Regions from separate parts of the Homo sapiens genome. Here region 1 is linked to region 2. Evidence: fine-mapped expression QTL. Tissue or cell type: spleen. Region 2 holds a variant in brackets; the other region holds the start of a gene. All regions are shown on one strand. Distances are between the middles of the regions.

Region 1 (8,190 bases), 31 kb before region 2:
GCACCTTCCAAATGCAGACTCCCTGACTGGAGGAGAATCTATCTCCACGTGCTCTCCTCTCTGCCCATCTGCTTAATGAACACTCACACCACCCCCTTTGCATCTTCTATGCTAAAAACCTTTTTTAATGACCCAGGAGGGGAGTAAGTGGCCATAAAATATCGAATTTGGGAAAATTTATTTCCTTCAAATAGATGATTACATCTTGTAAATGTTTTATGGATACAAGAAAGGAATATATATTCTCCGCTGAAGCACATTTATTTGTGCTTCTTTTTTTTAAGTAGACTTCTGCCATATTCTGAAGGACATGGTGTGACACAGTGAGGAGATTTTGTAGTTTTTATTTCAGAGATTTGCCCTTTAGTGCACTGATGTTGTGACATATCTTTTCCATGACACCTACATTTTACTCCAGGTAATAATTTTATGTTTTTCCACTTTATTATTTCGTGCTTGAATAGTACTTCGTCTAGCAAAAGTTTGTCCAAGCCACAGCCTGTGGGCTGCATGAGACTCAGGACGGCTTTGAATACGGTCCAACACAAATTCTTAAACTTTCTTAAAACATTATAAGATTTTTTGTGATTTTTTTTCATTCATTAGTTATCGTTAGTGTTAGTTCTTCTTTCAATATGGCCCAGGGAAGGCAAAAGATTGGACACCCCCACTCTAGTGCTTTATCAACATGGCTTACCTGTTTTGTTTTGTTTGTATTTTCTTGGTACAGCTTTGTCTTGATCTTCACTTGAAACTGTCTTCATCTTGCTGCAAGTGACATAACTGTTTGTTTTCTGCGAGCCTTCCCTGCACGACTTTTAGCTTCATGAGGACAGAGTGTGTGTGTTTCCCTCAGCACAGGATTCCCCATGCCCAGCATGGAGAATGGGCTCCACAGACAGGGATTATGCCTAGGAATGGTGAGCGCTACTTTCTTTTTGCATTTGCTTCTTGGTTTTGTGGTCAACTAAGTAATTTTTCTGGTGCAAATCACACTTACAACTCTGTATGATTAGAGTTCTTCTTAGAGAGACCACAAACGATGGAGGCCCACTCCCTTCACCTTCTAAGTACCCACCCCCTTTGATTGGCAGTGTCTCTTGATTCATTCACATGTATCCATTTATGGTATATGGATATATCTGTGTGTGGTATCTGCATGTGCATCAGAGGCAAAGTGGATCCCATGTGTGAATTTCCAGATAAGTGGATATTTTTAATTTTAGCACTAATTATTTCTAAGTTTAAGTACATTTTATAAATCTTGCTGAAATGTATTTCACTCATGCATCTTTAAGAGCATTATTAAGTGAGGCGTGACTTTGCAGCCTGGTGTCAGACCAGCTGCTGACCTGGTGTAGCAGATGTTGAGGCCCTGCTCCTCACCACCCAACCCTGAGTCCCCCTGGAATGGGATGGGCACTTGCCTGCCTGCTGACAGCTCCGCCCCTGGAGCCTGGCCTCTGCCTCTCTGCTGATGGCTTCTTGCAACCTTTGGAACCTCCTCAGCCCAGGCACAGGGTGGCCAAGAAGGTTTGCGATTTTAATAGTCCCGGAGGGGCACATCTCACCCAGTGGGGAACAGGAAGCAGTGGATGTTGGGAAGATCCTGAGCCATCGTCTATACAGTTCCTCCAAAGGACCCAGTGGGACTGGGTCCCAGTTGCCACCGCAGCAACCTGCTCATTAGCGCACCCTCTATGGCTTACCTCCCGCTGGCTTCACTCTCTGCACCCTGTCACTTTTGTTTCTGAGAACAGTCTGCTAAACAAACCACCTGCAGAAAGGCCCTTGCTCTAGATCAGCTTTTGGGACCCAGCCTGTCAGCTGGGCTGCTGTGAGTGCTGCCTTCAAGGCTGTGTGAGACTCTCAAGCCAGGCAAACAGTTTTTAGTATATGTCTGTTTCTCCGGCCAGCCTTGCTGCTGTCATTTGTCTTGCCGACAGCGTCTCCCTTTACTCCTTCCCCTGGGGAGAAGCAAGGAATGACACTGTCTGTTGTCGCAACATACTGTGCCCCAGCGGAGCTCCGTGCTGGACGCTCTACATGCACGAGTTCACGCAATCCACACAGCAGCCCTTCAGCCACAGGAATGTCACAGATGTGATCTTATTATCTCTATGTCATCATAAGCAAAAATTGATGCTAATAGAAGTTATTAGCCACAAGCTCATAGAGAAAAGGAAAGTTTTAAAAATAGTGTTACTTCCTCTAAGGTCATTTCCAGCATGCCCTGCTGCCTCATGCAGAAACAGAAAGCAGACAGAAAGGCTTGTCAGAAAATGGGTGAGAATGTACTTAAACGGAGGCTGTCTTGTGAGTAACATACGTGGATTGTGATTTTTTGTTTTTGTTTTTTTGAGACAAAGTCTCACTCTGTCACCCAGGTTGGAGTGCAGTGGCACGATCTTGGCACACTGCAACCTCCGCCTCCTGGGTTTAAGTGATTCTCGTGCCTCAGCCTCCCGAGTAGCTGGGACTACAGGCGCTCACCACCATGCCCGGCTAATTTTTGTGTTTTTAGTAGAGATGGGGTTTCACCATGTTGGCCAGGCTAGTCTCAAACTCCTGACCTCAGGTGATCCACCCACCTCAGCCTCCCAAAGTGCTGGGATTACAGGTGTGAGCCACCACGCCCTCTGAGCACACATGGATTTTGATCCCCTTATTTCTGTTTTGTTGGCTTTGTTTAGCAAAACAGTCATAGGTAGACAAATAGCAGGATGGAACTGTTCCAGACAGAAAGTGAACACAGTCAAATGAACTTTTTGTGGCTTAACACTGACCACCCAGAATCCAGTGTTCTACTCCAGCCCCTATCTCTCCCTGCAAAATTTATTTGATTACTGAATATCCTATACACCAGGCTTTGTCTTGATGGTTACTAGAAGGAGAAAGAAGAGTGGGTTTCTGCCTAGACTATGCCAGGTTCCAACTTACTCCTCACTTAAAGGTCTGGTGCTCTACCCCATAACTACAGGTGTTTCTAACTCAGCATGTGCATAACTGGACACATTGTCTTTTTCTCCAAACATCCTAAACAGTGCCACCTTCCACCCAGGCACCCAAGTCAAAAACCTGGGGATTTTATTAGAGACTTCCCCTGCCTAAGCCCCACAGCCCACCTGGGGAGAACAATGTGTTTACCTTGGCGTTCTCAATGTGTTCCCTCCCTGCTCCCAGGGCCTGCTCCCATTATTCTGAGCTACTGTGATAGTGCCCAAGTCCTTGAGAAACAGCCCAAGGAGTCTTCCTCAATTCCTGCTGCCCTGTGCTTCCCACAGCTCCTGGCATTGGTAGTTTCCAGCCTGAGGCCAGGAGAAGCTGGAGAATGCAAGCACCAAAGATTCCTGCATCTCACTGTGCTGAGATCATTGTCATGAATGAACTCAAAATATTATTCAACAAGGAGAAAAACAACAGTCCAAACTGAAAGGCTTACCTGACACCAGCTCGTAGAAACTGAGAACCAAAATGAGCACAAAAGCCATGGATATTCCTGTGGGTTGATCTCACACTATGAAAACAGATGACAGCAGGGGTGGATGGATGATTTGGAGGTCAGGCCAGCTGTCTCAGGCGCAGGAGCCGTGGAGAGGCTCTTCATGAACGATGTCAAACTGTGCATTTCTCCCTAGAGCCTCCCTAAACATGGCTGTATGAATGAGGAGTATGGGCACTGGAGTTTGAGTCACTGCATTTATTGGCAGGTCATAAACATCTATCTCAGACCAGAGAAATGATAATGGAAAGAGAGTAGGGTACACTTGGAGGGACTTTGTTCTGGGTTGTGCCCCACATAGGTGGTAAAGGAATGCCAGATGCAGAGATATTTTCAGGCTTAGTCTGGCAGGCAGAGCTGCAAGAGAGAGTGAACATCTGTCCCTGAAAGAGAGATTGGACGGGCGCAGTGGCTCATGCCTGTAATCCCAGCACTTTGGGAAGCCAAGGCAGGTGAATCACGAGGTCAAGAGATCGAGATCATCCTGGCCAACATGATGAAACCCCGTCTCTACTGAAAATACAAAAATCAGCCAGGCATGGTGGTGCGCACCTGTAGTCCCACCTACTTGGGCGGCTGAGGCAGGAGAATTGCTTGAACCGGGAAGAGGGAGGTTGCAGTGAGCCCAGATTGCACTACTACACTCCAGTCTGGTGACAGAGTGAGGCTCTATCTCAGAAAAAAAAAAAAAAAAAAAAAAAAAAAGAGATCATCTCAGCACAGGGTAGTGAGGCAGTGAATTTGCCCAGGCACACAGGCCATGCCCCATGAGACTCATATTTCCTGGCACAGCATGAGGTAATTCTGCCCATCCCTCCCTTGTCTTGAGTTCAGGGACAGGACTCTGATCATGAGGCCAGATTGTGTTGAACTTGCCAGAACAACCAGGACCTTGATCTCCAAGGATCCAAGGTATTGAGAAGGGGACCAAGACGATGTTTCAGGCCCGGGGGTAAGGCAAAGGCAAAGATGCATTCATTCAGTCATTCATTAGATGCACTAAGCCAGGACACACACAGTTAGGGATTATGCAGTGATTTCAAGTCTAGGGACATGCACAAAGAATAAGCACTTACTAGATCAGAAAGCAGGTTTCCACGGAGAGCACCACGAAGGACAACGAAGGTAAAGAGCAATTTAAAAAGAGGAAACCCCATGAACTTAGAAATTGTTAATAACACAATTTTAAATAACTAATGGGTCTAAGAGAACTAATAATAGAAGTTGAAGGTAATTAGACTAGAAGAAGAATGAAAACACTACATTTAAAATACTATGATGCATGTAAGGCAGTTCTTACAGAAAGGCTTATCCTTAAGTGCTTGTATTAGGAAAAAAGAAGTCTGAAATTGGCTGAACAAAGCATCTGAGTTAATCAGAGTTAACTCTTGGATCCTGAGGGTCTCTGGCCACTCGCCTTGTCTTTTCTCTCCCTTCACTTTTCTTTTTTTTTCCCCCACAATCTGTAAACATGTAATCCTACCTTAAGTACAAAGCCATTACAAATGCAAAAAAATCAAAGATTACAAGTCAATTTCTTTCTGCCTACAGTAATAGCTGAAATGTAAAGAGATCAACTTCAGAAAAAAATACATTGAAAAACATACCACTTTAATAAGACAAAACTGCAAATTAGATGAATAGAAATTAGGTAGATCCATTTATTTTTTAAATACAAGTATAATTTTGGAAGAGCTATTTGACAAATTCAGCATTAACTGCCAACTCTGTAGACATGTTTAACAACAACAACAAAACAAGACATTTACTCTTGGCCCTTTTAGTACAGGTGAAGTGTCCTATTGCATCACAAGTATTAGTAATGAAGTAACAGATCCAAGGGCATAATATTAAAGATGTTTTTTTCCAATTGCGATTTAGTTGAAAAATAACATAATACGAACATATATGAATGGCTATCAAGACCACCAGTGATCTGCAGAATACCTAGAGGCCTACGTACTTAGAAGGCTGAAACTAGTAAAACAGTATTAAAATCAGTGTTTTTATTCTAAGATGAGCAATGACAGAGTGAGATTTCTGATTCCAATTTTATAAGGTGCGGTGGGGAGTTGAGAGGAGATATTGGGGAAGACTGGCACTTTGTGCTGAGTTAGAGATGGGAATGTGGCTCAAATTAGTTAATATTCAGAGTAGGATATTGTTTTAGAAAATTTTAAATGCATTCTAAATTGTGGCATATTGAAAAGGATATTAAGGAACAATGATTCATTAGCCCTAAACACAATTTAGTGAGTGCCATCAGTAGGCTTAAGAAATAAGCAGGGATGGCAGATGATGAGGCAAAATGAGGTGAAATAGAAAATGGAAAGTGGAAAATATGCTTGAACATTGGAGAATGTGAAAAGACCACTAAAGAAACTGCTTTGGTGATCACTCAGAAGTGCTCTTCCCATTGGCTACCCGCTCCTGATCACCTCTTCCCATTGGCTACCCGCTCCTGATCACCTCTTCCCATTGGCTACCTGCTCCTGATCACCTCTTCCCATTGGCTACCCACTCCTGATCACCCAAACACCAATTTTAGAGCACAGCAGCAGTAACTCCCTTTATCTGCAATTTCACTTTCCATAGTTTGTTACCCGAGGCAACCTTGGTCCAAACATATTATGTGGAAAATTCCAGAAATAAACCATGTTTTAAATCACAAGCTGGTTGTGCACTGTGGCTCATTCCTGTAATCTCAGCACCTTGGGAGGCCGAGGAGGGCGGATCACCTAAGGTCATGAGCTCGAGACCAGCCTGGCCAACATGGTGAGACCCTGTCTCTACTAAAAATACAAAAATTAGCTGGGCATGTTGGCGGGCGCCTGCATTCCCAGCTACCTGGGAGGCTGAGGCAGAAGAACTGCTTGAACCCAGGAGGCAGAGGCTGCAGTGAGCCAAGGTCGCACCACTACTCCAGGCTGGGTGATAGAGCGAGACTCCCTCTCAAAAAAAAAAAATAATAATAAAATAAATCACAAGCCATGTAGTGATGAAATCTCATGATCCTCCTCCTCTGTCCTGCCTGGGATGTGAATCATCCCTTTGTCCTGCTTATCCACACAGGTTGTATACAACCTGCCCCTTAGTCGCTTAGTAGCCGCCTTGGTTGTCAGATTGAAAAAACATAGACTATACAGGGTTTAGTACTATCTGAGGTTTCAGGCATCTACTAGGGGTCTCGGACTGTATCTCTTGCAGATAAGGGGAGACTACTGTATTACATTTCAGCTTCCATAAAACTTTACTAATTCGGATTAAGAACACAAGCCTGATTTTGTAAAAAGCATCCATAAATATTCAGAGGTATAGTTTTGCTTCATCAAGTAAAAAGAGCAACTAATTCCAACTGTTGAAGTAGTAACAAGTAAAGGCTTCACCAGGCTTGCCTTGATGAATAGTTAAGACACATTTTCAGGTCAACAGCACAAGATTATTGAATAACTTTTATGCTACAAACGCTGCTTCCACTCATCGAAACAACCCAACAATCCTTACTATTCCAATTTGCTGAGAACCATGTCGGATGCTGCCTTCAAGAATGAAATGTTCCTCAAAACTGTTCTATCAAAGGCAGTAGCTATTGGACATAAAACAGGTGATTTATTTCAGACTTTAGTTAGTTTTCATGAAGTCTTCATCTCCAACTTCAGTTTATTCCAACATTAATTTATGATAGGACAGTTATTAAAATTAGCCATTTCTCAGACTATAGCTTTGAAATAATAAGAAAGGGACAATTGGGCTCACTAGTCAAAATCTTGATTCAAGTGATGATCCAATAGCTTACAAATGTCTTCAATAAACTGAGCTTTGGGGCAGGATGAAAAACAGAAAAATGTAAAACCTCTCTATCGCAATCACCAATAATGGAGGCTAGGCAATTACACCTACAAATCCTTAACGACAGACCTCTCCTAATGACAAACCCTGAGACTTGAGCACTGTGACTTACAGAAGGCCGGTTGGCTTAATGAGGAAATTTACTTTTAATAAAAAGACAATCAGCAATATTTTATTTTGGGCACTTAGTGTTTCACAGATCCTCAATACGTTTTGAGGTAGGTCAAATATTAATAGTGTATTTTACAAACAAAACTCAAGCAGTTGTTTTGTTACTTGTCCCAAACCACAGGAGCAGTTCTATCGTGGTCAGGAATAACAGGGTCTCTCTGACCTTTCAGATTAATCTTTCATGTGTGAAGTTAAGCGTAATCACTTGCAAATATTCGTGAAAAAAACCCAGAAGACTAGATATAGAAATTCTACTTTGGGATATTTTAAACTTCTTAAATTGATCCTATAATGAGTATATACTTGCTCTCATTACAAATATCTATATCTCTGATCTTTACAATTACAAATGAGCACAGGAGTGACTATGTTGCTTTTCTGCCTTTCGGGGTGAGTAGAGCAGGAAGATAATCAGTAAGCTTTCCTCAGAGCACTAGGCAGCCTTTAACTGAAGGTGCTATGTTGGAGGCACCATTGACTATGATTTGGGATCATAGGAGAGCAGGTATACTAATGGAACCAGGATTCAGAAAAGATGCCTGGATCCAAAAAGAGGAGGCTCTCTGCAAGTCAAAGATGAAGAGAAAGATAGTAACATCTGAAGTTACTGATCCTGAGTATCATGGTACAGCATTACAACTACTTGTGAGAGGAGCTCCTACAAGAGC
Region 2 (8,190 bases):
CAAGTAAGAGATCCTCAGCAGTCCACATGCCAGAGTCCTGTAGTACATGCTACAGGAAAGCCCCTCAGCCCTCAAAGGCCCTGAGTAGTATAGGGATTTGCCTGGGGTCCATGTGACTGCACTGTTCCACGGAAGGAGTTCATGCAATATTACATCCCCAGGACCCAATCAACTGCAGCATGACATCATTTTGAGAACAGACCCAATACAAGACAACATTCTGCACCATGGCTTAATAGCCCCTGCATCTCCACATCCCTGGGGTCCCACTAGCATCCTCTCATATCCACCCAGAAGTCTGCAGCATCAGAGCATTAGCTGGACCGAGATGTGCAGTAAATCTGAACCCATGGAGCACTCTAAACCTGGAAGCAGGCATTCCTGCACATCAGACAGTCTGTGCTGAGAACATAGAGAATGGAAATACGCACTCCCCAGAACTTGAGAGCCGCCTTCCTGGGTCCACCACCACAAACAGTTACTCTGTTCCCTTCAGTAATTATATAAATAAAGTTTATAAGCTATTTTTAATTTTTAGTTATTTCTTTATAGTTAAACAGTTAATCTTTCAAGAAAAAAAATGAAATAACTCAGAAAAAAAATCAAAGAGTGAAGAAATCCTATATGACATATGGGACACAATCAAGTGAACAAAACCTCAAATGTTGGGAGTTCCAGAAGGTACAAACATGGCAAAAGGCATAGAAAACCGATTTAAAGATAATAGCTGAAAAGTTCTCATGTCTTCGAAGAGATGAAGACATTCATATGCGGGAAGATCAAAGAATCCCAAATAGACACAACCCAAAATGTCTTCTCGGAGGCACATTATACTCAAATTGTCAAAAGTCAAAGACAAAGAAAGAATTGTAAAAATGTCAAGAGGAAAGCATCAAGTCACATGAATCTCCATCAGATTAACAGCATATTTCTCAGCAAAAACCTCTAGGCCAAGAGAGAATGGGATAATATATTCAAAGCCCTGAAAGAAAAAGAAAAAACTGTCAGGCAAAAATACGATACCTAGCAAAGTTATCCTTCAGAAATGAAAGAGGAATAAAGTCTTTCCCAGAAAAACAAAATCTGAGCAAATTCATTATCACTAGACAGGCCTTTGAGAAATGCTTAAATGCACTTCCTGCATCTAGAAGTGAAAGGATGATATCTCCCATCACGAAAACACACAAAAGTATGAAACTCACTGGAAGAAGCAGATACACAAATGAGAAAAAGAGAGGAATCAAATGTCATCACTATAGAAAGCCATCAAATTGCAAAGATAAGCAATAAGAGAATAAGAAAGGAACAAGGATATACAAAACAATTAAAAGGCAATTAACAAAATAATAAGAAGTAGTTATCAATAACAGCCTTGAAAGTAAACATATTAAATCCCACAATTAAAAGGTTTTTTCCCAAGATGGTGGATTAGAGGCATTGTTAGCATGCCTCTCCTACTTGGAAAGACAAAATAGTGTCTAGACATACACAGTGTGAATTTTTTTCTAGTAAGCAGGCAAGAACTTAACAGGAAAACTGAAAGAAACCACAAACTCTTTGAAAGAAGTGGCAGGCTGCAGCCTACACAATGAGTCAGGCAGAAAACTGTAAGTCCTCAAAGTGTGAGGGGGGATAAACTGCCCCCAAGATATACACTGCGACGTGGGAACCTGACAATACAGGCCGGAGGGGAAGGCCTTAATTCTATCCAGCCCTGAAACTGGTTTAGGGAGTAGTGGGGAACAAAAAATTAGGAGCACCAGCACAAGAGCCTTGCATGCATTCCCAGCCTCCAGTGTGGACGAAGGAAGCCATTCCTGATCCTGCCTCCCAGGGGACCTCACAGAAGTCGGCCAGCTTATTCAGGCAGCAGTCACAGGTTAAGAAAAGCTTCTAACTAAAATTCATGATATTCTCTCGAGTGGGGATGAACTTTCTTTGCCAGAAGTGGGAGGTGAGTGAAAAGCGTGCTGCATCCATGAGTGCAGAAGCTGGGCACCCTGGCTTTGCTGGCAGACTGGGAAGGGCATGGCCTAAATGCCGCAGTTGCTGTCTCTGCCAGAAAGGCTTATGGCCTGGAGCAGTTTTGAGTTCTGAGCACAAACTGCCTGGAACTTAGCTAGCCGCTGCTAGTGGAACACTCTGGGCGTGAGGTTTGCCTTGCCAAGTACGTGGGACTGTGTGGGGCTTATGCCACCTGCTACTCCCCACTCCCTGTGTAAACTCTTCTGTGCAATAGAGGCAGCTGCACCCCTCCCTGGAACATTGTCCTAGTGGCAAGAGAACCACCCTCAACCCCCACAAGAGCCATTGTTTGCCTTGCATGTGGAGAGCCAGCACGTGGACCCGCCTGACCCAGCCTCCACCTGGTTTTGCCCCTCCACCTACCCTGGTAGCTTAACACAAAGGACGGAAACTTTTGGGAATTTTATGGCCCCTCCCATTGCCTGAGACACCACAGTACCCCCTGGGTAACATAAGGCAAGTATAAATCCCACTGCTACTACCGCAGCTGGTGCTCTTTTCCAAGCAACACCTCCAAGCTAGAGGCCAACTGACACAGTCAGTCCATTACAGCAGCTCCAGGAGGAGTAACAGAGCACCCAGGAAGAAGAACACTTGTGTGTGACCTCAGCTATCACCATTTCCCACAGTGTCCTGACTAACCAGTGGGTCCTAGTCTGTCCAGGTGAACAGTTCATTACTACCGTAACCAACATTTGAGAAAGCCAATATACTAAGCCTATTTATAACAAAGGAATCTCAGAGTCTACGTTACTCCCCTGCCACCCTCATCAGAGCTGGTGCTGGTACCCATTGCTGGGAGACTTGGGGACAGGTTACATCACTGATGGCTTTACTGACAAATTCTACCAAACTTTAAAAGAAGAATTAATACCATTTCTACTCAAACTATTTGCAAAAGTTGTAGAGGCAGGATCTCTCCCTAAGTCATTCTATGTGGCCAGCATTGCCCTCATACCAAAGCTAGACAAAGACACAACAAAAAAAGAAAACTACAAGCCAATATCTTGAATGAACACAGATGCAAAAATACTAGCAAACCAATTCCAACAACACAGCAAAAAGATAACACACCATGATCAAGTGGAATTTATCCCAGGGATGCAAGGATGGATTAATACACACAAATCAATAAATGGGATACACCACATGAACAGAATGAAGGACAAAAACCATATGATCATCTCAATAGACTCAGAAGTAGCATTTTACATGATTCAACGTGCCTTCATGATGAAACTGGATATACAAAGAAAATACCTCAACACAATAAAGACCATGTATGACAAATCCACAGCTAACATCATACTTATTAGGAGAAAAACCTGAAAGCCTTTCTTCTAAGAGCTAGAAGAAGACAGAGGTGTCCACTTTCAATACTTTTATTCAGCATAGTACTGGAAGCCCTAGCAAGAGCAATTAGGCGAGGGAAAGAAATAAAGTCCATTCAAATTGGAAAGGAAGAAGTTAAATCGTTCTTGTTTGCAAATGACATAATCTTATAATTAGAAAAACTGAAACACTCCAGCAAAAAAACTCTTGGCACTGATAAATGAATTGAGTAAAGTTTTAAGATACAAAATCAACATACAAACATCAGTAGCATTTATAGATGCCGATAGTGAACAATCTGGAAGAGAAATCAAGAAAGCAATCTCATTTGCAATAGCTACCAAAAATTTAAATAGCAAGGAATAAATTTAGCCAAAGAAGTGAAAAAGTTCTAAAATGAAAACTATAAAAAACTGATAAAAGAAGTTTGAGGACACAAACAAATGGAAAGATTTCTAATGTTTATGGATTGGAAGAATTATTATTGTTAAAATATTCATACTACCAAAAATAATCTATAGACTCAATATAATCCATATCAAAATGCCAGTGACATTCTTCACAGAAATAGAAAAAGAGTCCTAAAATTTGTATGGAACTACAAAAGACCTCACATAGCCAAAGCAATCCTAAGCAAAAAGAACAAAGCTGGAGATATCACACTACCTGACTTCCAAATTTACTGCAAAGCTTTGGTAACCAAACAGCGTGGTAGTGACATAAAAATAGGCACACAGACCAACAGAACAAAATAGAGAATCCCAAAACAAATCCATACATTTACAGTCAACTCACTTTCAACAAAGGCAGCAAGAACATATGTTGGGGAAAGGACAGTCTCTTCAATAAATAGTGCTGGGAAAAATAGATATCCATATGCAGAAGAATGAACTGGATGCCCCATCTCTCACCATATAAAAAATCAAATTAAAATGGATCAAAAACTTAAATATAAGACCTGGAACTATAAAATTACTAGAAGAAAATACTGGGGAAATGCTTCAGGACATTGATCTGGGCAATGGTTTGTTTGTGTAAAACCTCAAAAGCACAGGCAACAAAAGCAAAAATAGATAAATGAGATTATATCAATTCAAAAAGTTTCTGCATAACAAAGGAAACAACAGAGTGAAAAGACAGCCCACACAATGGGAGAAAATATTCGCAAACT[A/C]GACATCCAATAGGGAATTTCTGACCAGAATATATAAGAATTTGACTAAACAGCAAAAAAAAAAAAAAAAGACGATTAAAAAATGGGCAAAGAACTGGAATAGACATTTCTCTAAAGAAACCATTTAAATGTTTGAAACATATATGAAAAAATGCTCAGCATCACCAGTCATGGGAGAAATGCAAACTAAAATCACAGTGGGATGTTGACTCACACCTGTTTGAATAGCGATTATCAAAGTGATGAAAGATAGGTGTGAAGGATGTAAAGAAAAGAGAGTTCTTGCACCCTGTTGGTGGGAATGTAAATTAGTACAGTCATTATCGAAAACAGCATGGAGATTCCCCCCAAAATTAAAAATATGACCACCTTATGATTCAGTAATCCTACTCCTGGGTGTATATGCAAAGGAATTTAAATTGGTATATTGAAGAGATATCTGCACTGCCATGCAGCATTATCCACAACAGCCAAGAAATGGAATCAACCCAGGCGCCCGTAAACAGATAAAGAGATAAAGAAAATATTGTATTTTTAGTAGAGATGGGGTTTCACCATGTTGGCCAGGCTGGTCTCGAACTCCTGGCCTCAGATGATCCACCTGCCTTGGCCTCCCAAAGTGCTGGGATTACAGGCATCAGCCAGGCGTGGTGGCCCATGCCTGTTATCCCAGCTACTTGGGAGGCTGAGGCAGGAGAATCGCTTGAACTCAGGAGGCGGAGGTTGCGGTGAGCCGAGATCGCGCCATTGTACTCCAGCCTGGCCGACAAGAGTGAAAGTCTGTCTCAAAAAAAAAAAAAAAAGGAAAGAAAAAGAAAATATTGTATATATACATAAACATTTCTCCGAAGAAAATATTCAACATTGTGTTTGTGTATTTATGTGTGGGTAGACACTATGTATGTATATAGATACACAATGAAGTAGTATGAACCTTTAAAAAAGAAGAAAATCCTGTTATTTGTGACAACGTAGATAAACCTGGAGGACATTATATTAAGATAAATAAGCCAGGCCCAGAAAAAGAAATACTGCATGATCTTATGTATATGTAGAGTCTAGAAAAGTTGAACTAACAGAAGTAAAAAATAGCATGGTGGTCTCCAGGGGCTGAGTATGTGGGAAGTTTGGGGAAATGTTGGTCAAAAGGTAAAAAGTTTGAGTTAGGAGGAATTCGTTTAAGAGATCTATTATACAACCTGGTGACTATAGTTAGTAACAATGTATTGTATTCTTGAAAATTACTGAAACAATAGATTTCATGTGTTCTCATCACAAAAAAGATAAGTATGTGATGTAATGCATATGTTGATTAGCTGTCTATAGCCATTCCACACTGCATACATATTTCAATACAACATCTTACACACGACAGATATATACAATTTTTGTCAATTAAAAATAAAACAAAATAGCTGAGCGCAGTGGGTCATGCCTGTAATCCCAGCCCTTTTAGGGAGGCTGAGGTGGGCAGATCACCTGAGGTCAGGAGTTTGAGACCAGCCTGGCCAACATGGTGAAAACCTGTCTCTACGAAAAATACAAAAATTAGCCTAGCTGGGTGTGGTGGCGGGTGCCTGTAGTCCCAGCTCCTCAGGAGGCTGAGACAGGAGAATCACTTGAACCCGGGAGGTGGAGGTTGCAGTGAGCCGAGATCGCACCACTGCACTCCAGCTTGGGGGACAGAGCGAGACTCTGACTCGAAAAAAAAAATTAAATAAATAAATAAATAAAATAAAATGCCAGAAGAAGAAACAAGTAACTTAGCTATAAGGAAAAACAACCAAAAAGAGAAGCCATAAAGTTTTCCCTGTGGGTACAACACTGGGGTGGGTTGGAAAGGGACACAGTAGTAAGGCATTGGGGTACTATTGCTTTTTATTACAATGCTTTTAAAAATCATGGTTTTGGTTTGGTTTTTTGTGGTGGGGGGGGATTCTGTTTGTTAGTTTGTTTTGAGACAGGGTCTCTCTTTGTCACCCAGGCTGGAGTGCAGTGACGTGATCTCAGCTCACTGCAGCCTCAACCTCCCAGGCTCAAACAATCCTCCTGTCAGCCTCACGAGTAGCTGGGTCCACAGGCATGCACCACCCACCTGGCTAATTTTTTGTATTTTTTGTAGAGACAGGGTTTTGCAATGTTGCCCAGGCTGGTCTCGAACCCCTGGGCTCAAGCAGTCCACCCACCTGGCCTCCCAAAGTTCTAGGATTATAGATGTGAGCCACCGCACCGGACCTAAAAACTCCTTTAAATATTAGTTTGCATCACTTTGATAAAAATACATTTTTAACAGTCAAATGGACTTCTGCATCCCAAGCAGATCTGGGATGTGAAGTCAGGTTTCATGTGTGAGTGACATTGCTGCTCCTTTTTTGTGTGTGAATTTTTTTTTGTTTTTTTCTTTAGTTTTATTTTCTTTTTCTTCCTATTTTGGTCATGTCAGAGAAAAAAACCACAGAATAGCTCAGAAAATTTCACTTTTACCCCCACTTCTTTCCTCCTTTCTCCTTACATCACGCGCACACACACACACACACATGCACACACACACGTCTCTGTATGAACTTGGCTGCCCAAGGCCTTCCTAGCCCTCTCTCCTTTCCTTTCAGAAGTTAATTTTCTGACACCTTCTTCCACAGTGCCCTTTCAGCTATTTTGTTCCTAGACAGTTCACAGCAGTCCATCCTCATATCTCTAATGCCTGGCTCCTGGTAGTTTCTGGGCTTGTATTTATTACTCCCTGAAAAACACACAGGGAGCCTACCAGCATCTCTGCCACTCACCACGTGCTCCTAGACCCTCGGCTCCCTCTGGCCTCCAGACTCAGCTCATCGACTACAACCCTCTCTGCTTCCTCTCCTGAGGTGCCTCAGGAGCCTTGCATCCTTCCCCAGGCACAGTAGGGGGACTTAGCTCCTGACTTGGGCCCCACCATCCTGCTTCCCACTGCTGTCCTAAGGTGGGAAGCTCAGACGGCTGCACCAGGAGGCAGGCCCGGTGTTCCTGTCTGTGGCTGCTTTAGTTTGTTTTAATCATCTTTATAATGAAAACTAACTTGGTGGTGGGGATGTTTTGCAGGGGAATTCGTTATATTGGCACTTATTGTTTCTAGTCGGACTACCATGTTACATTAATGTTAGCTTTATCACCTATTATTCCAAGTTTTCTTATTCATGATTTTAGTCCTTATTTACTTTGGATGGCACAGCTAATGGCATCATTCAATTTTGATTTGTTGAAGATAGTTGTTCTGATACTCAAAGCTACAGAAATTTTTTTAAGTCTTCTGTTTCATTGTCATTTGATGTGAGCTGATACCAGTTGAATCTCTGAAACTCTGTTTCACACACATTTATTTATTTCGACAACCCAACTTCATTTTAAAATAAATGTTGTTTTTTTAAAGCTGCTTTACAAATTTTTGTTTTATTTTGAAACAGTCATATAAACTCCCAGGAAATTGCAAAAATTGTTGAGTCTTGAGTACCCTTCACCAAGCTTTCTCCAATGGTAACAATTTTTTAAAATTAAGGCAATGGCAACATCTTATGTAGCTTTGCTATGGCACAATATTGAAACCAGGAGATTGATATTGATATAAATATGTTAACTAGACTCCAGGCCTGATTCACATGTTAGCAGTTTTTACATGCATTCATTTG

The links. PIP is the estimated chance that this variant, and not a neighbour inherited with it, causes the effect.
Region 1: BTNL3 starts here. The variant in region 2 is fine-mapped to the expression of BTNL3 in spleen (GTEx, PIP above 0.99).

The regions. Positions count from the first base shown.
Region 1 is chr5:180,984,330-180,992,519 of GRCh38, reverse strand. BTNL3 (butyrophilin like 3) reads right to left here and starts at 3,674. Exons shown (of 8, transcript NM_197975.3): 1 at 3,443-3,674. The coding sequence starts at 3,491. It also overlaps the pseudogene ARPP19P1.
Region 2 is chr5:180,953,806-180,961,995 of GRCh38, reverse strand. No RefSeq gene overlaps it. Among named protein-coding and RNA genes, the nearest start is that of BTNL3, 31 kb to the left of the region's middle. The variant A/C (reference allele first, on the strand shown) is at 4,529.